3 separate regions of the Homo sapiens genome follow, and all the other regions are reported to be linked to region 3. Evidence: microRNA targets listed by miRTarBase, many of them from high-throughput screens and not tested one by one. Region 3 holds a microRNA gene; each other region holds the end of a gene's coding sequence.

What was found. The annotated mature microRNA hsa-miR-1268a reads CGGGCGUGGUGGUGGGGG and lies in region 3 at 2,155-2,172, opposite strand. An mRNA with a match to its seed (bases 2 to 7 or 8) in the 3' UTR can be bound and repressed. Matches are read on the target gene's strand: a 7mer-m8 pairs with bases 2 to 8, a 7mer-A1 pairs with bases 2 to 7 and ends in A, and an 8mer does both.
Region 1: miRTarBase lists AIP as a target of hsa-miR-1268a. The part of its 3' UTR that is shown has no 7-base or 8-base seed match.
Region 2: miRTarBase lists NDST3 as a target of hsa-miR-1268a. Seed matches in the 3' UTR shown: 7mer-m8 at 2,576-2,582.

What each region holds. Positions count from the first base shown.
Region 1 is chr11:67,489,799-67,496,798 of GRCh38, reverse strand. It overlaps AIP (AHR interacting HSP90 co-chaperone), which reads right to left. Exons shown (of 6, transcript NM_003977.4): 4 at 6,585-6,761; 5 at 6,342-6,483; 6 at 5,696-6,011. The coding sequence ends at 5,806. PITPNM1 (phosphatidylinositol transfer protein membrane associated 1) reads left to right here. Exons shown (of 24, transcript NM_004910.3): 15 at 451-621; 16 at 1,197-1,361; 17 at 1,574-1,722; 18 at 1,843-1,953; 19 at 2,439-2,555; 20 at 2,729-2,877; 21 at 2,962-3,111; 22 at 3,206-3,389; 23 at 3,737-3,865; 24 at 4,503-5,031. The coding sequence ends at 4,766. MIR6752 (microRNA 6752) reads right to left here and starts at 6,554; the gene lies at 6,484-6,554.
Region 2 is chr4:118,254,718-118,261,717 of GRCh38, forward strand. NDST3 (N-deacetylase and N-sulfotransferase 3) reads left to right here. Exons shown (of 14, transcript NM_004784.3): 14 at 876-3,917. The coding sequence ends at 995. LOC105377392 (a long non-coding RNA gene) reads right to left here. Exons shown (of 3, transcript XR_939113.3): 2 at 4,259-4,358. Among named protein-coding and RNA genes, the nearest start is that of SNHG8, 21 kb to the right of the region's middle.
Region 3 is chr15:22,223,154-22,230,417 of GRCh38, forward strand. MIR1268A (microRNA 1268a) reads right to left here and starts at 2,176; the gene lies at 2,125-2,176.

The DNA of each region.
Region 1 (7,000 bases), not on the chromosome of region 3:
GCCCAGCTAATTTTTGTATTTTTTTTAGTAGAGACAGGGTTTTGCCATGTTGGCCAGGCTGGTCTCGAACTCCTGACCTCAGGTAATCCACCCACCTCTGCCTCCCACAGTGCTGGGATTCCAGGAATGAGCCACTGAACCCAGCTAATTTTTGTATTTTTAATGGAGACGGGGTTTCACCATGTTGGCCAGACTGGTCTCGAACTCCTGACCTCAAGTGATCCATCTGCTTCTGCCTCCCGCAGTACTGGGATTCCAGGCATGAGCCACGGTGCCCAGCCCCTGTCTCACTTTAAGCAGGGCCCTACTGACTTCCCAGGGAGTGCAGTTTGGGAAGTGCTGGCTCGGGGTCACACCAGACATCAGGGTGCTGCTCCCACACCCCCTACCTCCCAGAGTGCCCAGCTGAAACCCTGACCCCACAATCTTTCTCTGTCTTCTGGGTACCAGCAGCCCAGATGCGCCCAGCCTGTGAACAGATCTACAACCTCTTCCACGCGGCTGACCCCTGCGCCTCACGCCTCGAGCCCCTGCTGGCCCCGAAGTTCCAGGCCATCGCCCCACTGACCGTGCCCCGCTACCAGAAGTTCCCCCTGGGAGATGGCTCATCCCTGCTGCTGGGTACGCCCCCAAACAAGATAAAGGGGAGAAGGAGGAGGGCACACACAGGAAGGGAGGAGGTAGCAGAAGACATGAGGAGGCTCCCAGACGATGGAAAACCTCTCAGGCCACCACTCCCAGGACCAGGCGCTCCTTCCCCCTGGGGGGGTCTGGATCCCCAGGACCCTCTGACCTCCTGGGCCTAGAAGTTGGGTGGGGGTGGTTAGCCAAGCTAGAGAGGGTGCCCCCTGGCAGCATGATGCTGGTGTGCTGCCATACAAGCAGCCAGCATGTGTGCGCTGCTGCATCTGTGTGGGGTGTGCTGCAGACATTTATTGCGGGGCATGCCCAGGTATGTATGGGCCAAGCGGGCCTGTGTTGGGCACAGGTGTGCAGCGTTTGGGGCGGTGGCAACAGGCATTCTGGCAGGAGTGCAGCTGGCCACTGGGCTGAGAGGAGAGAATGCCACAGTGCAGCCTCAGCCAGGACCTGACCAGAGGGGCCACAGGAAGATGGCAGAGGTGCGGGGAGCCCTGGGTGAGAAGACAGGAGAGCCACCTGGCCGGCCCCTGCTGACCTTGCCCTCCTTCCCCCAGCCGACACTCTGCAGACGCACTCCAGCCTCTTTCTGGAGGAGCTGGAGATGCTGGTGCCCTCAACACCCACCTCTACTAGCGGTGCCTTCTGGAAGGGCAGTGAGTTGGCCACTGACCCCCCGGCCCAGCCAGCCGCCCCCAGCACCACCAGTGAGGTGGTTAAGAGTAAGTCAGCCAGCCTAGGCAGTCCAGCCTGGGGGTGGGGGAGGCCCGTATTCCACCTCCGAAGCCCAGCTGAGAAACCCTTTCCCCCAGCACACAGCCTGGACTTGGCAAAGAGCAGGCTGGGTGAAAAGGGGGGAGGGAAGAGCACCCAGCGCCCAGGCAGATGGGTGTGGGGCAGGAGGCCATCCTGACTCGCTGCCATGGCCGCGCAGTCCTGGAGCGCTGGTGGGGGACCAAGCGGATCGACTACTCGCTGTACTGCCCCGAGGCGCTCACCGCCTTTCCCACCGTCACGCTGCCCCACCTCTTCCACGCCAGCTACTGGGAGTCCGCCGACGTGGTGGCGTTCATCCTGCGCCAGGTGGGCCTGGGAATATGGAATGGGAGATGAGAATGGGACGGGGATGGGCTGCTTTGGGCCGGGGGAGGGGCAGCCCTCCCTCCCCTAAGAGACAGAGGCCTCGCCCCCTGTCCCGTGCAGGTGATCGAGAAGGAGCGGCCACAGCTGGCGGAATGCGAGGAGCCGTCCATCTACAGCCCGGCCTTCCCCAGGGAGAAGTGGCAGCGAAAACGCACGCAGGTCAAGATCCGGGTAGGTGCCCTGCCCCTCGCCCCCTCGCCCACTCGCCCACTCTCGCCCACTCACCAGAGAGGCCCCGCCCCTCCCCCCAGCACCCCCCTCCTCGGGTCCTAGCCGATCCAACTCTCTCCCAGTCCTGCCCCGCCCCTGGGGTCCTGGCCCCACCTCATTGCCCCAGCCCCGCCCCTGGGAACCGCTGGTCTCCCCGCCCTCTGCGGGAAGTTTGGGTCTAGGGTCTGGATCTGCGCTGGTCCCCACCTCGCCTCATCCTCTGCATCCCGTCCTGTCACAGCTCTGCCCCTGGAGGCGCGGCCCACACACAGGCTCTCAGGCCGGGGTCCACAAAAGTGCGCCCCCCGGGCTTGCCCTTTTCCCTCAATGCCCCGCCGCCTCTAGGCCCCCACCCCGGTGTTTGCGTGTGGATCCTCACCCGCTCCCCCTCCCCAAGCATCCCCATCCTTTGCTGGCCGCGGACTCACGCCCTCTCCTCCCTCTAGAACGTCACTTCCAACCACCGGGCGAGCGACACGGTGGTGTGCGAGGGCCGCCCCCAGGTGCTAAGCGGGCGCTTCATGTACGGGCCCCTGGACGTCGTCACGCTCACTGGAGAGAAGGTCAGGACCCAGAGGCCCTGTCGCCTGGTCCCATGGCCCCATCTCCTGTCCTCGGAACAGCTCCTGGTCCCTGGTGGTTGTGCCCCTAGACCCACCCATCCCCGACGACAGCCCCGCCTCTGCCCACCTCCACGCAGGGCCCCCATTTACCTCCCGCCCCTTCTCCCCTCCAGGTGGATGTCTACATCATGACGCAGCCGCTGTCGGGCAAGTGGATCCACTTTGGCACCGAAGTCACCAATAGCTCGGGCCGCCTCACCTTCCCAGTTCCCCCAGAACGCGCGCTGGGCATTGGTGTCTACCCCGTGCGCATGGTGGTCAGGTGAGCGCGGCTGGCCGGGCCTCTGCGGGAGGGCTCCGCCAGGCCTCGCCCCGCGCCACTCACGCCCCGCCCCGTGGGCCGCAGGGGCGACCACACCTATGCCGAATGCTGCCTGACTGTGGTGGCCCGCGGCACGGAGGCTGTGGTCTTCAGCATCGACGGCTCCTTCACCGCCAGCGTCTCCATCATGGGCAGCGACCCCAAGGTGCGAGCTGGCGCCGTGGACGTGGTCAGGTAGGAGTTGCCACTGCCACCACCACCCATTTCACCGGGGTGACCGGCCCCTCACCCCTGGCCAGCGGAGCTGACCGCTGCCCCCGCCCCACAGGCACTGGCAGGACTCCGGCTACCTGATCGTGTATGTCACAGGCCGGCCGGATATGCAGAAGCACCGCGTGGTGGCATGGCTGTCGCAGCACAACTTCCCCCACGGCGTCGTCTCCTTCTGCGACGGCCTCACCCACGACCCACTACGCCAGAAGGCAATGTTTCTGCAGAGCCTGGTGCAGGAGGTGCGGCGGCTGGGGGAGGCTCCGGGTCCTGACCCCGCCCCCGCTCCCCCTTACCCTCCACCCCCGGATCGGCGGAGGCCCATCTGTTCCCAACTGGATCGGCCCGGGCCCTGCCTGACTGCAGCGGCCCGCTACGGTCCTGCTCCCCTAGTTTGAGGGGCCCCGTGTACTTAGGGGCAACTAGGGAGATGCAGCTGGTCCCGCCCCTGTCCCCGTGGGACTGGGACCTGTCTTCGCCTCCGTCTGCCTGGACCCACCCCCAGAACAATCTGGGGAAGCCCAACAGGCCCCGCCCCCAGCTGCACGGCTCCACCCCTGGGGCGGCTGATTGGCATCTCCCGCCACAGGTAGAACTGAACATCGTGGCCGGTTATGGGTCTCCCAAAGATGTGGCTGTATACGCGGCGCTGGGGCTGTCCCCGAGCCAGACCTACATCGTGGGCCGTGCCGTGCGGAAGCTACAGGCGCAGTGCCAGGTGAGGCCCAAGTGAAGGCCAGGAACAGGACCCCACCAGGGGGCAGGGCCCTCAGTCCCAGGCCTTGGGAACCACGGACTCTGGGGAAGATGTGAGAAGGCCTAACCGGCCTCCAGGGAACCTGGGATCCTCCGAGGACAAGGGCCATGAGCAGCTTGAGCTGCCAGCTGCCAGGCAAGCCAGAGGGGACAGCCCACACTGGAAAGTGCTCAAGACCCTAGGCGCTGGTTCCACTCGGCCATGGCTTTCCACTGTGACCTTTCTGAGCCTCAGCTTCCCATCTGTAAATGGAAATGATCATGGCACTGCCCATGTCAGCTTATGAAGATCACATCAACAGGCACAGGGCTGGGCACAAAGCAAGTGCTGGCTAAACATTGGCTGCTGTTATTTTTCCTCTAAGACCCCATTTTCCAGATGAGGAGACTGAGGCCCAGAGAAGGGCAGAGCTAGGAGCACAGCCAAGGTGCCCTGGCTCCCAGCCTGGGGTCCTATCTATTGAGAAGGCTTCAGCTCAGGCTGTGCCAAGCCTGCCACCAGTCCCCCAGCCTGCCTCAGGTGCCTCTGGAGGACCGTGGAGGGCAGCGTGTGGGCCCTTGGCCAGCACCCCCTCATCGCTGCCTACCTCTGCCCACAGTTCCTGTCAGACGGCTATGTGGCCCACCTGGGCCAGCTGGAAGCGGGCTCGCACTCGCATGCCTCCTCGGGACCCCCGAGAGCTGCCTTGGGCAAGAGCAGCTATGGTGTGGCTGCCCCCGTGGACTTCCTGCGCAAACAGAGCCAGCTGCTTCGCTCGAGGGGCCCCAGCCAGGCGGAGCGTGAGGGCCCGGGAACACCACCCACCACCCTGGCACGGGGCAAAGCACGGAGCATCAGCCTGAAGCTGGACAGCGAGGAGTGAGGCCCACACCAGCCTGGACCTGGGTTATTTATTGACACACCCAAGGGGCCCGAGGGGCTGCGTGTGGGAGGCTGGGGACCCAGACTTTTGGCCCCAGCGCTGGCCCCCCCAGCCCCACACCCTATATCTCCGTGTGCTCCTCGGTGTTACTTCCCTTTCATATGAGGGGACCCAGCGCCGGGGGGAGGGAGGAGGGCGTGGGCATGGGCGCAGAGGCTTTTCCAGTGTGTATAAATCCATGAAAATAAACGCCACCTGCACCCCACCCACTCACCCCATGCCTGGCATCACAGGGCAGCCAGCCCAGTTTCCAGTTCAACAGGGGACACTGATGTGCACAGAGAGGCCAACACACACCCAGGGCCATCCAGCTCACAGGCAGGGTCAGGATGGGGGCCTGGGCCTCAAAAGGTCGCACGAAACCCACGCCCAGGGCCATCCATGTCACAGGCAGGTCAGGATGGGGGCCTGGGCCTCAAAAGGTCTCACGAAGCGCTCGGCCCTCTCCTCTTTCTGGACAGTCAGCCCACCCCAGCCCAACCCGGCTCACCTCAGCCCCAGCGTAGCTTCTCATGGAAACCCTGCCCCCAGACACCGAGGCCAGGAGACCATGGGATCCGAGGCTGGAGTGGGAGGGCAGCACCAGGAGACTACCTCCCTCAGGTGCCCAGCTACCTAGCTTGTACCCACTTCATCTCCCCCTTAAGACTGTGGGCTCCTGGGGCGCCCCAGCCCTGGCCAGCGAGAGACACTTCCTTGGTGAAAGAGCTCATCGTAATTTCTCTAACAGGGACACCAGAGCCTCAGAGCTGGTGGGTGGAGGGGCTAGGATTTGAACCCTGATTCTTTGCCTCCCAACAGCCACCCAAGTACCAGGAATGCCAGGTGATGACCCGGCTCTCCCAGTGGAGCAGCTCAGCAGACTCAGAGAGAGATAAATAAAGGCCTTTATATACACAGAAGCATGACGCAGCACGGGCAGGGGGGCTGGCAGCTGCAGCAGTGGGCTTGGCAGGTAAGGCAGGGCCAAGTGCTCCTGTCAATGGGAGAAGATCCCCCGGAACCGGGCTTTGTCCTCTTCGTCCTTCTGCCGGATCCGTGCCTCCAGGGCCCGCAGCTCTCGGCTCACCACAGGCGCCAGGGCTGGGTCCAGCTCCAGCACTTTGGCAAAGTCAGCCTGGGCCTCCTGGGCATTCCACACGGCCGCGTGGGCCTTGCCCCGCTTGAAGTAGGCCTTGACGTTGTCTGCAGGGGAGGCCAGTGGGCAGTGGGCATGCAAGGGCATGAGGGGGGATCCTGGCCAGCTGCCTGCCCTCATGTCTCCTGGCACCATGGGCCCACAGGGGAGAGAGAGCCCTCCCTGACCTGAGGATGCCACCCCACCCCCAATACACCATTCATGCTTCATTGGCACAATGGGGCCCACAGCCCTGCCGAGTAGAGGCATTTAGTCAGGCCCCCGTGGGAGCTCAGAATGGGGGTTGTGAAAGGCTAGGTCTTGACCCCAGCAGTGACAGGAGAAAGGCCACTCTCTGACCACTCGCAGCCCCCGGCAGCCCAGGGCCCGGTGCTCACCGTCGTACTTGTTGAGGATGGAAGAGCAGTGGTCCAGCACCTCGTAGTACTCCTCGACCACCAGCTTGCACTGGCAGTAGTTGAGCAGCAGCGGCGTGATCTGCTGGTCCAGCTGGATCCATTCAGGGGACCCAGGCTGTTCCTGGGAGTATGGGGGCAGGGAGCGGGGAGAAGCTGTAGACCTGGGCCCCCTGGCTCCACACCCCCCTCCATCCATCCTCCCCCTCAGCCTCCAGGCAGTACCTTCATCTGCAGGTTCTTGAGGCAGGCAATGGCATCGTAGTACTTGGCAGCAGCCTCCTTCACATGCCCCTCGCGGTACAACCGGTTGCCCTCCTGGTGGATAAGTGGCACTGCCTTTGCCTTCTCTTCGTCTGTCATGGCCCATGGGTCCTGCTGGTACGTGCCAGGGCTCTCCACCTGCAGGGCATGGGGCATATCACAGCGGGGCTCGGGGACACCACAGCTGCGTCCGTCAGCAGCAGACCTGACCCACATCTGGGCTGGCTGGGCCCCCAGACATCACACACCAGCAGCAGAGCTACTTGTCACTCAAAAAGCATCAAACATCGATGTCACATCTCCTGTGTGCCCAGCACTGTGCCAAGTGCTAAGAATAGAACAGTGAACAAGACGGTGAAAAGCCCTGCCCTCGCAGA
Region 2 (7,000 bases), not on the chromosome of region 3:
AATACATTACATTAACTGAGAACCCTAAGATGGTCTGAGGATCCTAAGGTGGGCTAAACTTATTAGAATACTTTAACAAAACCTTGAGGACTACTTTTTGTGCCTTGCCTGATAGATGCAGGGTCTGTCCTCAATAAACTCATAATTAAATCATATACGGAAGAGAGAGAGAGTTTCTGTTATTTTGATAAACAAACTGCATTTTCAGAACTCCAATTTTCTGTGGCTGATTAAAATATACCTTCAGAGCACTTTGAAAACAACCCTTCTTTTCCCAAAAGAAATTGACATACAATTTCTATAGTATTTCAAGAAAGTAATATAAAATATATCATATGCATTTATGTCAAAGCTATTTCCCCGTAAATTTATTAAAGCTAAAATGTTTAAGAGACACTGCAGAATATCTTTCTTAGCATTTTGTTTTACTCTGGTCTAACACAGACCTTATTAAATTTGGAGGTAGAGAAAGATAAGAAAAACACAACTTTTCAGGATATCCTTCCTTCTCAACAAGGTTACTGAGTAATCCATATTGGGTTTATTTAAGGGAGTGGCTGATTTTGTGAAAATAATGTCCACAAAGCAGGTAAGAGTAAAGAGGTCTTCACAGAGGTAATGAAAATACAAATGTGTAGGAGGGATTAGAGTGGGCAGTACTGTCACCACACCTTTTGCCTCTTCCTAGTAAGAAAAATGCCAGTACCCAAGACTGTCAGTAAAATATCATAGCATGTGCTAAATAAATAGTCCATATGCTTAATACAAATTTTAATCCAGATCTGGTATACTTGGTACTTATTTCAACGTAGTCAAAGTGTATGAAATGTAATAAACAAAATAAAATGTACTTTTCTCTCCTCCTCTCCACTTAGAGCAGGACATTTCTGTCAAGCTACTATCGAGATCACAACGTGGAACTCTCAAAGCTGCTGCACAAACTGGGTCAGCCTCTGCCATCCTGGCTGAGACAGGAGCTGCAGAAAGTAAGATAGCACTGAGAGAAAACTTGAGACTTCATCGTCCATGTAGAACACACCTTTTCCAAAGCTTCCAGAAGCTACCAAAAGGCAGTTGAAAAATATACCTCTTCAAATGAGAAAAAAGAACAGTTTCTTCCATGTGCTGGCACGTGGATGATTAGAAAAAAAGAAAAAGTATGTGTTACAAGCCTTGAGGCCTGTGGCCTTTCTCTTAACCCATATCTGAGCCTGTGGGATTATTGTAGACTACTGTGCACTCATGTGGAAGTCAATTGCAACCAACATAAATATCAAACACAAATGCAGAACTGTTCCATTTCATAGTAATATTTACACTTTTATATATCAACTAAGATTGTGTCTCTGTAGGTTTTTAGACCACTGTTTGCCTGTACGATGTTTTCTTATTATTTTATTCTATAAAGTGTCCTATGAAACAAGAAGCAAAATAAACATCACAATGTAGCATAAAATGTCAAAAGCATAACACCCATGAAAAATGCTTGCCAAAATTTAAATCCACTTAAGTATTTAGAAATAATTGTAAATTATAATTTGTGCTAGATCAGAGTGGAAAAGTTATATATGAGTGTTATCTGCACCAAAAAAAAATAAGTGCTATAGCAAAAGTGATTTTTTCATATACATAGTCTAGTGAATATATGTAAAAATTACTAACTCTTCCATCACAACGTAATTGTTATACTGAAATATATACTGTAAAGCTGTTGGATGGTAAATAGAAACACATCAAGTACACCAAAACAGTAAATAACAATGTAAAGTGTACTGACTGAATCCTCTAAAAGGGAGAAATTGTAGGGGTCTAAAAACATATCATCGAGAATTCTATGTCCACTTGCTGTAAGCTGTGAATCTATCCCAGTAGTCCTCACTAGTTCTACAGAAATGCATGCCTAGAGTCTGAGGTATGTGTCATCTCCAGAAACAGGTTGACTTTTAAATGTGAATAGCTATTTTTAATGCTCCCCAAAACAAAACCTATTAAACTAAAACTAAAAACAGTTTCCCTAGATGATGTGGTTAGGCTATTTACATTTAGGTTATTAAAAAATTGCATTTTCCCAGATAGTTCAAAATAAAATTATGTAATGTAGTAGAGATTTATAACAAAAAACAAATTAATATATTATTTGTAATCTAATGTTTGCAATGATACTTTTGATATAAGGCAAAGAAACATAAGCAGAGCAGAGGCCCATTTTTGAAAATATTTCACCCATCACTCTGGTGGAAGTAACAGATCATAGGTACAATTAAGGATTAGCTACTAAATTAAATGCAGGAAGTACAAAGATGAGCAAGTCATGCTCTTGAAATATATTTACATTTCAATTGTAAATAATATATATGGTTAATAAAGTTTCCAAAAAAGAAAAGAATACATCATACTTATTTTCCTGTTAATATTTACTTAATTTTTTTTTTTGAGAGGGGGACAGAGTCTCACTATGTCACCCAGGCTGGAGTGCAATGGTGTGATCTCAGCTCACTGCAACCTCCGCCTCCTGGGTTCAAGTGATTCTCCTGCCTCAGCCTCCTGAGGAGCTGGGATTACAGCCATGCACCACCACGCCCGGGTAATTTTTGTATTTTTAGTAGTGACAGGGTTTCACCATGTTGACTAGGCTGATCTTGAACTCCTGACCTCATGATCCACCCACCTTGGCCTCTCAAAGTGCTGAGATTACAAGCGTGAGCCACCATGCCCTGACTACTTAATTTTTAAATGTACTGTACATATACATAAAATTTAAGTAGTAAATTAATTCCCTGCTATGATTATAAGCCTTTATAAAATATTATCAAAGGTATGATTAGAAACAAATGGGAGGAAAACCCATAGTAAAAATATTTTCATTGTCATTTTAATGGGTAAAACTATCAATTACTAATTAGAAAATGAATTGTGAGATCCACTTACTATAAATTTTTAACTGTACATTATAATTACTTTTTTAAAGTTTCATGTACCTAAAGCATATGCTAATTTTTAAATATACTATTAGCAGAAAAAATTGGAAAAATCACCAATTTTTAAGACTCTTGACTCTAAAAGCAAAATCAAAGTGATTTGGACAAATATGGGAAACACAGTCTTCATGCTTACTGCTGTCTCTTTTATAGCAGCAGATGCCAGACATGCTAGGAAAATTACTATAGTCTTCCATCTCCACCAACTTAAGAAAACTGGCTTAGGAAGGTTAAACATGAGAATAGGCCTCAGCAGTTATATACAGTGTCATGTTTTCATTTGGCAACAACATTTATTCTAATAAAAAAAGAAAAGAAAAACTGATACATTTATGCTTTAATGGTAAGATGTACATTTGAACTGCTAAGCAAAGCTGCTAATGGCCTATTTTGTTTAGGTAAATCGAGTTGACTGAACACTTCATCCTTTTAAATAGATGTCAAAAACATACTCCGTGTTTGTATAAAGACAGGAGAAAAAGGAAGAGATCTTACCAAAATTTATTCATTCACAAGTACATGTATTACGCTAGCTAGAGCAGCAAACCTGTGAAAGGATTTTTGACCACTCAATGTGTCTTGAAGACAGCATCAAATTCTAGAGGACATGCATACTTTCCACATTATATACTCCAACTGGTTAATATGCTAATCTGAAAGTAACATAAATACATATGAGAGAATAATGAGAGATAATCTGATTTAAAACTAGCTTTGTATAGAATTCCCTTTTTCATTGTTTAAAATATGAAACTTCCTCAGGAAGAAATGAAATGGTTATTTCAATGTTTATAGCTGTAATATTCTTGTCATTCACATTGAATGAAAATTACTGGAAACATTTTTTTCTCTGAGTTTTTTAAAATAAAAAACCTAGATATAATTCTGATAGTAGCATGGTACCTCATATGTACAACAATAAACTGATAGGAAAATGAAGAGTTTGGACCTGGTGATTTTAGGTAACAGTAGGTATTTTATTGTTTTGGCCTGGGAGTGAGTGGGAGGTGGTTACGGAACATAGATACTACTAACATAATTCAAAATGAAGAGATAGAAAATTTTCAAGTAGGATATATATCTATCCTATATTTATAAAACCTTTCACAGATCCTTCTCCTCCTAAATTTATATGTTACTTGTAGTGAATTTTTTTTTAGTTCTAATAAATATAATGCAGTTTCTAGGTCATTTATGGGACCCTAGAATAAGAGAATAAGAGAATCACACAGCTGTTACTAAATGGACTTCAGAACAGGAATGATTATAGCATTTCTTACCCCTAGTATTCTGTTCTGCTCCATACCAATGAGCCCATTTCTTTCCTCAGAGTTTAAAAGGTGTTCATCTCTCTTTTCTAAAAATCTGGCAAAACAATCTCTGCAAAAAAAGGAGGGAGGGGGGATTCGGGGAGTTTAAATTTAGCCATTTATCTTCATTCTCCACACATTTTCTTTTCTCTCTTCCAATCCCTTTCTTTTCTAGACATCAGCTTTTCACATGTTGCAACCCACCCTATCTCGGGGCACCAGCTGAATACCCCACAGGCTTGCCTCCCACACACACAGCTCACTGATTGAGCTGGGACATCTCATCTCATCTTCTGCCTTCAGACTGTGATTTACAGCATTGGCTTCCCTGTTCCTCAGGCTTTCAGTCTCAGATTGGATTACACCGTTAACCACCCAGTCTCCAACTTGCACAGCAGATTATGAGACTTCTCAGCCTTATTAATTCGGCTTTTTTGGAGAACTCTAAGACACACAGTTTCACTTAGATTCCATCCCCCCAAAAATCTGCAATCTACTTTGAGTAAGCCTTTCACCTATGGCCAAGGATACCTAACAAAATTTGAGGGCCACTTGTCCCCAAACCAGTGCTGCTACCAGTTCTTGCCATTTATTGTCCCTAATTTGTTATCTATAAAAGTTCTCTATATACTCAGTGCCCTTAATAAATGTTACAGCGTAAAATTTATTCATTTATCTGTTAGTACTGAAACTAATAAATAAGTTGAACCTCCTTCCATTAATCCTGTAACTATCCTCATCTTTAAGTATCTATCACTTCTCAGTCTATTTCCAAAAGTTATAAATACAAAAATTAATAAATCACTAAAGTTGGAATTAGTTATATGCTCACCATTTCCTCTGGAGCATCTCTTAGAGAAAGAGGAATCATGAATAGTATCAGTAAGTTAAAAAAGACATTCACTTGCCAGAGTCAAGTCAAGTATCTCTTTTACTATACTATAGTCAGAGCTCTCCAGAGAAATAGAACTAGGGGCAGATACATATACATATATATATATATATATAAGCACATATATACACACATATAAGCATATATATATATATATATACACACACACATACATAAGTATATAAAGACTCATTATAAGGTATTGGCTTAAATGATTTTAGAGGATGCAAAGGCCCATGATCTGTCATCTGCAAGTTGGAGACCCAGGAAAGCCAGAGGTGTAGTTCAAAAGCTTAAGAGCCAGAGAGCCAATAATGTTGCAGTCTGGGTTTGAAGGCCTAAAAACCAGGAGCACTGAGGACAGAAGAAGTTCAATGTTCAGCTCAAGCGGCCAGGCAGTTAACTGGACCTTCTTCCACCTTCTCATTCTATTCATGCCCTTAATGGATCGCATGATGCCCAACAACACTGGGGAGGGTAATCTGCTTAACTCAGTCTACCAATTGAAATGCTAATCTTATCCAGAAACACCATCATAGCCACACCCAGAAATAATGTTTCACCAACTATCTAGGTACCCTGTGACCCAGTCAAAGTTGACACATAAAATTAATCATCACATTTACTTAGCAATCCCTTTCAAGGAAGTCAAACCACATTTTACAAATTAAATGCTCACAGCATAAGGTCTCCAAGATATTGTTAGAAAGAATGTATTTGCCCACATTTTACCATACAGAAAAGTGAATTACACTGAATAAAATGTGAGATAGTTCGAAAGCACCCAGAATCTGTGACAAATCTTACAAAACTGTCTACATTAAGCTGCTTCTTGGTTTTGAGGGAATACATTAAGTGTAGGAAATGCCTGCTGTCTACATTTCTGATGCCAAAATGCTCTATTTCAAATCAATAACTGAAATGGAAACCAGACCTTGCTCTTAAATATTATACATAATTTATAAAGTTGGACCAAAGAAAATGAGCCTTCTCTATTTGATAAATAATATTCTGAATCTAAATTTTTTTCAATTTCAACATTAAACAGAAATGCAAGCTCAACATGCTATATACTCCTAGTGCTTTAGTGTATCATTTCAGAACTTACTGTAAATCCTTCAAAGCAAACAAAACTTTTAAAAGCCCACAAAACAAATATACTATCAAAAATAAAGCTTGCTTCACATATAAATGAATAAATTGACAAATTTTTAATAATTTAAAGATTATAATTTTAAAAACAATAAAAAGCTATGAAAATATAATATTGATAAATTCTCCCTCCCACTTGTGATCATCCTGAGAAAACCATACTGTTTTCATTCCCAGTTAATTACAGGGATGTCCTCAGTGCAATCAGAATAGCAAAAAAGATAGATTGGACTATAATTGAACATTTGTTCTTTACTAAGTAACATTGGGTAGGTGACTTTTCTGATCTCAATTTACACATCTGTCAATGGAAGTCACATGTGATGATTGGTAAGGAGGGGGAATGCTTTTCTCCCTGCTTTGTTTAACATGTTCCAGTAGATCAATTATTGTAACATGTGATTCTGTCTCTGATCTACTCTCCCATAGAGGAGGAACCAATGAATTATCTAAGTGGTAAAACTGGAAGCAGAAATTCCGCTTGAATAGCTCAACCTATCTCCCTCACTTCTCTTTGGGATCTACCTGCAAAGATGAGCCACCCTGGTCCTCTTGGCCTGTGTTAAGTTTAGCAGACACTGACGTTTATTTAAAGCCACAAACAAAACCAAAAGAAGAGCTAAAAACAAAAATAAAAACATAAATACATGCTCAAAAATTAGGAAGAT
Region 3 (7,264 bases):
TGGGCTGAGGCAATCCTCCTGGGTTGGCATCCCACAGTGCTGGGATTACAGGCCTGAGCCACTGCGCTCGGCCATCTATGGCTTTTTATCCCCACTATAAGACAAGGAAGAGGCATAGCTCAGGAGTGAGCTGAGTCGACACCAGGTGGCGCCCAGGTCCCGAGCCTGCTCTGTCCGCAATGCAGCCTTCATCCCCCGACCTGCACGTCCCCTCTCATCCCAGAGCACACCCTCCGGGGCCATCATCCCCCCACCCGCAGGGCTCACCCTCCAAAGGACCCCAGGGCCTGCGTGGTGGTCCGTGGACTCACTTACCAACCCTCCTTCTGCTCGGCCTCCTGAAGCCCTTGGATGGCTCGGAGGGCACGGGGACCAGGTACTAAAGGATAATGATGGCTACACACATGTCCCTAAGCTCACTACCTGGGGACGCCCTCATTCTGTCTCTCAGTCTATTAACAGGGGAGATGGAGCCCAGGAGCCCAGGAGACAGCTACACACACACACACACAAGCACACACACGTCCCTGAGTTCACCACCTGGGGATGCTCTCATTCCGTCTCTCAGTATATTAACGGCAGACAGAGCCCAGGAGATTGACGGCTACACACACACACACACGTGTCCCTGAGCTCACCACCTGGGGATGCACTCATTCCATCTCTATTAACAGGGCAGACAGAGCCCAGGAGATTGGTGGCCACACACACACACACACACACACACACACACACACACACACGTCCCTGAGTTCACCACCTGGGGACGCCCTCATTCTGTCTCTCAGTCTATTAACAGGGGAGATGGAGCCCAGGAGCCCAGGAGACAGCTACACACACACACACACAAGCACACACACGTCCCTGAGTTCACCACCTGGGGATGCTCTCATTCCGTCTCTCAGTATATTAACGGCAGACAGAGCCCAGGAGATTGACGGCTACACACACACACACACGTGTCCCTGAGCTCACCACCTGGGGATGCACTCATTCCATCTCTATTAACAGGGCAGACAGAGCCCAGGAGATTGGTGGCCACACACACACACACACACACACACACACACACACGTCCCTGAGCTCACCACCTGGGGATGCCTTCATTGTGTCTCTCAGTCTATTAACAGGGAAGACGGAGCCCGGGAGACTGACGGCTACACACATGCACACACAGACACACACACACACGTCTCTGAGTTCACCACCTGGGGACGCTCTCATTCCATCTCTCAGTCTATTAACAGGGCAGACGGAGCCCAGGATTGATGGCTACACACACACACACACACACACACACACACACACCTTCCTGAGCTCACCACCTGGGGATGCTCTCATTCCATCTCTCAGTCTGTTAACAGGGCAGACAGAGCCCAGGATTGATGGCTACACTCACACACACACGTTCCTGAGCTCACCACCTGGAGACGTCCAGCACTCCTCCCACAGCATCTTCGAAGCTCTCATTCTGTCTCTCAGTCTATTAACAGGGGACACAGAGCCCAGGAGAGGTCTCTGTCCCGCGCTGTCCTGGCAAATCTGGGTCCCGATTCTGAGTTCAATGGTGTTAAAAAATAATAGGCTATGTCCCCACTAAAGTCTAAATATAGCCAACCCCATTTACCCAGGCTGTGCACATCACAATTCCACTTGTAGAGGCTCCTACCACCATCTTAGGTCCATCCCCAGAAGGTCCATCCCACCCCCACCCCGCCCCCGTCAAGGTCTCACTCTGTCACCCATGCTGGAGTGCAGTGGTGCAATCTCAGCTCACTGCAACCTCCACCTCCCAGGTTCAAGCGATTCTCCTACCTCAGCCTCTGCAGTAGCTAGGACTACAGGTGTGTGCCACCACACCCAGCTAATTTTTGCATATTTAGTAGAGTCGGTGTTTCTCCATGTTGGCCAGGCTGGTTTCGAACTCCTGACCTCAGGTGATCCACCCACCTCAGCCTCCCAAAGTGCTGGAATTACAGGCGTGAGCCACCGTGCCTGACCTCAGACACCTTTTGGTGCTTCTGGTTTGAGATGGGGTCTCACTCTGTCACCCAGGCTGGACCGCAGTGCTGCAATCTAAGCTTACTGCAGCCTCCACCTCCTGGGCTCAGGTGATCCTTCCACCTCAGCCTCCAAAGTAGCTGGGACCACAGGCCCCCACCACCACGCCCGGCTAACTTTTCTTTCTTCTTTTTTTTTTTTTTTTTTTGTAGATACAGGTTCTTACACCATGTTGCCCATGCTGGTGTCAAACTCCTGGGCTCCAGCAATCCTCCCACCTCAGCCTCCCAAGTAGCTGGGACCACAGGCACCCACCACCACGCTGGACTAATTTTTCTTTTTTTATCTTTTTCTTTTCTTTTTTTGTAGATATGGGGTCTTACCATGTTGCCCATGCTAGTGTCAAACTCCTGGGCTCAAGCAATCCTCCCACCTCAGCGTCCTGAGTAGCTGGGACCACAGGCACCCACCACCATGCCCAGCTAAATTTTTTTTTTTGGGGGGTAGAGAAGGGATCTTACCAAGTTGCCCATGCTGGTGTCAAACTCCTGGGCTCAAGCGATCCTCCCACCTCAGCCTCCCAACACGTAAACGGGTGCTACATTTCTGCACAATCCCCGCAGTCTCCCTTATTCTGTTTTACAACTACTCCCACATAAAGTAACATAGAAAGGTGAGCCCCATTATTCCTTTAGAAGGTAGACTGGAGCTTGCAAGAAGCTGTAGGATAAAGATTCAGAGGTCAACTGAGATAAAATGAAACACCCAGGTGATTTTAAGCTAATCAAGGGCCCCTTTCACGTGGGTGATTTTAAACTACCCGAGTGACCCTTTCACACAGGTGATTTTAAATTAATCAAGAGCCTCTTTCACACAGGTGATTTTAAACTAATCAAGTGACCCTTTCACACAGGTGATTTTAAACTAATCAAGACCCTCTTTCACGCAGGTGATTTTAAACTAATCGAGTTCTCCTTTCACAGAACTAAAAGGGGTGGTTAATTTACACAAATGCGCAGGCTACAGCCACCTCTCCTTCCTAGGGACTTCGGGCCGAAAATGCCACCTGTCACACCTCCAATCCAGGCACTGCAGGGCTGTTAGGAGGGGAATTAGCAGCTGGGATACCCCAATCCTACAATGAGGGGGGTTAGCAACCCCTCCTGAAATACCAAAAAGGCCACAGCTTCCTGCAGACGCTTAAGAACCATGCCAATCACAACTGCTTTCCTGAAAAATGCAAGAAGTCCTGGTGAGGGCTGGGGTTGCAGGACGCTTTGCACACCACGGGTAACAGTTTGTGGGGGCGCTTCTCTGGGACTGGCTACCTCTTACTGTCCCCTGGACCAGGGGGGCCCTGCTCTCATCCTTCTGGCATCTCCCAGGCCCCTGCCCCACTCAGAGCTCCACCGCAGGGGCTCCTGAGGCTGGACTCAGAACCGCTGGATCCCATCAAGGCCCCCAAGGCAGACATCTCACAGATGTCTGTGCTGGGGGGTGCGTCTGAGGCTCTCCTTGCTTCATGAGGCTGCTTCACCCCATTCTTGTCTCCCCTCACCTCCTGACACCCTGGGTTCCCCATAGGCCCCCCTCCCCTGCACAGATTTTCACCTAGGCTCTGGGAGGTTGGTGGAGTCCTGGGTTCTAGAAGACCTCAGAGACCCAGGGCAGAGTGAATGTCAGGGGTTATCAGAAGCAGGGGCTGCCCAAGACCAATTGCTGAGGGAAGAAGGAGTGATGAATGAGATGGATAAACATGTCAGCTGTTTGGCTTTCCACAATCATTATCTATTTTCAGCCTCCGTGTCCTGATGTTTAAAATACAGCAGCTAAAATATCTGGTGGTCTTTTCTTCCTCTTCTGAGTGCAGCCACGACATGCCACATCTCTGCCCATGGCCTTCTTGCCTTTGTCTCTAGAGGGTGCCATCAGGGATGGATCTGTCCATGCAGGAAGGAGCCTGAACCCCAGACTCTTGGACCTCAGACTGGGAGAGGGTGTGGGTGAAGGCACGTGGACCAGTGATTGATTAATTGATTGACTGATTTATAGACAGAGTCTCACTCTGTCACCAGGCTGGAGTGTAGTGGCACGATCTCGGCTTACTGCAACCTCTGCCTCCCAGGTTCAAGCGATTCTCCTGCCTCAGCCTCCCGAGTAGCTGGGACTACAGGTGCCCACCACCACACCCAGCTAATTTTTGTATTTTTAGTAGAGACGGGGTCTTGCCATGTTAGCCAGGCTAGTCTCGATCTCTTGACCTCATGATCTGCCCACCTTGGACTCCCAAAGTGCTGAGCTTACAGGTATGAGAGTGCAGGGCCAGAGGATGGCAAAGACAGGGGCTGGCCCCAGGATCCTCAACTGTTGGCATCAGGACCGGACTCAGGGCCTCAGTCTGGCAGCATGGGCGTCACGCTGCCTGCCGGGCAGAGCCCTTTGCCCCACCTGAAAGCCCTGTGGTCACAGTGTAGAGGCTGGAGCGGCATGCTGGGGTGGGAAGTGCTGTCCTTGTTGCTCTGTCCCCTGGCTCAGGAGCCCCTGAGAGTGGCTTCTGCTCCCCGAGCTTCCTGCGCTCCCTGAAAGTTGTGCATCCAGTGCTGAGTCCTGAGGGCCTGGGGGTGTCAGGCCTCCTTCCTGGCTGTGACATGTGGGTTGGAGATTTGCCTTTGTTTTAGTGAAATGCCAGTGGTCAAATTCAACAGGAAAGAGGAAAAAGAAAGCATAAGCCTGAGTCCAGGGTGGAGGATGGTGGCATTGAGGAAGGACCTGGGGCCCTGCTTCTCCCACTGTCTCCAGTCCACACCCTTCTGGAAAGGTCACATGATGGCTGCTGCAGCTCCAGGAGTCACTGTATGGACATGAAAACATCCAAGAAGAGGAGGCATCTCCTCCTTTGCATCACTTTTACTGGAAAGGAATGCTTTCCCCAGAAGTCCCCACACCCCATGTCCCATGCAGCAGACCTGCCTCCAGGTCCTGCTGTTGCAGCTGAGTGCCAAAGGAGATGGAGACAGTGAGGACGTGGAGCTCACAGATTCTGCAGCACTGGCAGGCCTGCCGGCCAGGACCAAGATCACATGTCTGCTCCAGCATCCTCGGGCTTAACCCCTGAGCTGTCCTGCCTTACTCTCTCCTGAACTCTCTGGCCTGTTGCCACCAGGCCAGCTTAACAGAAAATACTAGAACCTGTGGTTGTTGGTAAATGTTTAACAACTGGCTCTCCAGAGGTCAGGGGTTGGGGTAAGCCCCACTTTGAAGGTTTGCTGATTTCCAGGGTATAAACACTCCCACTTTGGTTGATTTCAAGGTACCAATGCAAAGTCCCTGAGTGTGGAGTAGGGAAGAGACGCTCACCATCGGCTCTCGTGAGCCCTACGAACTGGCCACAGTGTACCCCTGACTAGAACCCATGGGAATCCATACCTTAGAGCTGGGAGAAGGGATGCCCTACCCAGGCTGCAGTGCAATAATTAAGGCATTGAAGGAGCTGGCTGGACACAAATGAGACCATTTGTTGGATCCCTACGATGTGCTGATCACACACAAATGTCATGTCGATGCCTCATAACTATCCCTTTGTCTGATGAAGAAACTGGGATTCAGAGAGGTTGAGGCACCTGGTGACTTGTATGGAATCAGAATCCAAACCCAGGTCTGTCTTCTTCCAAAGGCTGTGTCCTTTCACCCAAAACAAAGGCCTAGATTCAGAAGAGACCCAGCTCACTCTCATTCCACCCTGATGACATGCCAGGGGCCAGGATGTTCAAAGTGGAGCATGACTCACAGTCACCGAAAAGTAGGAAAAAGCAAATGTCCATCGCTGAGGAGTGGATAAACGAAACGCGGTCCATCCATACAACTCATACCATCAGCCATAGAGAGGAACGAGGCTCTGACACACCCTACAACGCGATGAACCTTGAACATGATGCTGAGTGACAGAAGTCGGACACAAGGGACCACGTATTACACGATTCATTCCATTTACATGAGAGGCCCAGTGTGGCCAGTCTACAGGGACAGAAAGTGGATGGGTGGCTGTCAGGGGCCAGAGGGATGAGGGAATGAGGAGTGACTGACAACAGATATGGGGTATCTTTGTGGGGTGATGGAAATTTTCTAGAACTAGATGGAGGTGTGCACAATGTGTCAGTGTGCATAGTGCCCCTGAAATTATAAAACAAACCAGGCGGTGGAGGATTCCTCGAAAAGGGATTTTCCTTGCTCCAGCCTCCCAGGCTGAGGCTCTTGTGTCACTTTCTCAAGTTCACTGCAGGCAGCTTCCCATGCTACCAGGTAAAAAGTAAAGGAGGCGAGGCCAGGCATAACGGCTCACACCTGTAATCCCAGCACTTTGGGAGGCTGAGGCGGAGGATCACCTGAGGTCAGGAGTTTGAGACCAGCCTGGCCAACATGGAGAAACCCCATGTCTACTAAAAATACAAAATTAGCCGGGTGTGGTGGTGCACGCCTGTAGTCCCAGCTACTCAGGAGGCTGAGGCAGGAGAATTGCTTGGACCTGGGAGGTGGAGGTTACAGTGAGCCAAGATTACACCATTGCACTCCTGCCTGGGCGACAAGGGTGAAACTCAGTCTCAAAAAAAAAAAAAAAAAAAAGTAAAGGAGGCATTTTACATGCATCTTTTGCACTAAGTACTCTCAACTCCCCTGGAATTGGGGAATGCTATTAACCCCATTTTACAGTGAAGAAAACTGAGGCTCAAAGAGAAATTAAGGAACTTGCCCATGAGCCCACAGCCAGTCTATGGGAGAGCCAGGACTTGGGCCCAGGCCTGTCTGATTCCAAAGTATTGCTCTAAACTCTTCACTGTAGTAAAGCAACATCCAGGTTGCATGGGATTTTCTCTTTCCAGGATGCTAGTTCAGTGGCATGGCAGCTCAGAAGGCCACATAGGCTGGAAGCTTCCATGTCTCCTAGCCTCTGCCCTCCCTCAGCAGGAACGAAGGACTGGAGCTGGAAGGGAAGAGCCCTGTGCTGAGGGCGTCCCAGGCCCGTCCGCCACATCCCTCCAGGACACTCAGCTCTGTTATGACTCGGCTGTGTGGCATTCGTTAGGCCTCATTTTGCTGACCTTAAAAAGTGACCAACAGCAGAGATCAGTCGTCCTCTACAGAGGCTGTGCTACCCCCGGGGGCCTTCTGGAAGTTTTCAGGGGTACAACAAGTGGGACAGTCCCCCAGATGAAGAACTCCCCCAATCCCTCTGCTTTTCACTGTCCCACCAGGCCCTGGTAAATGA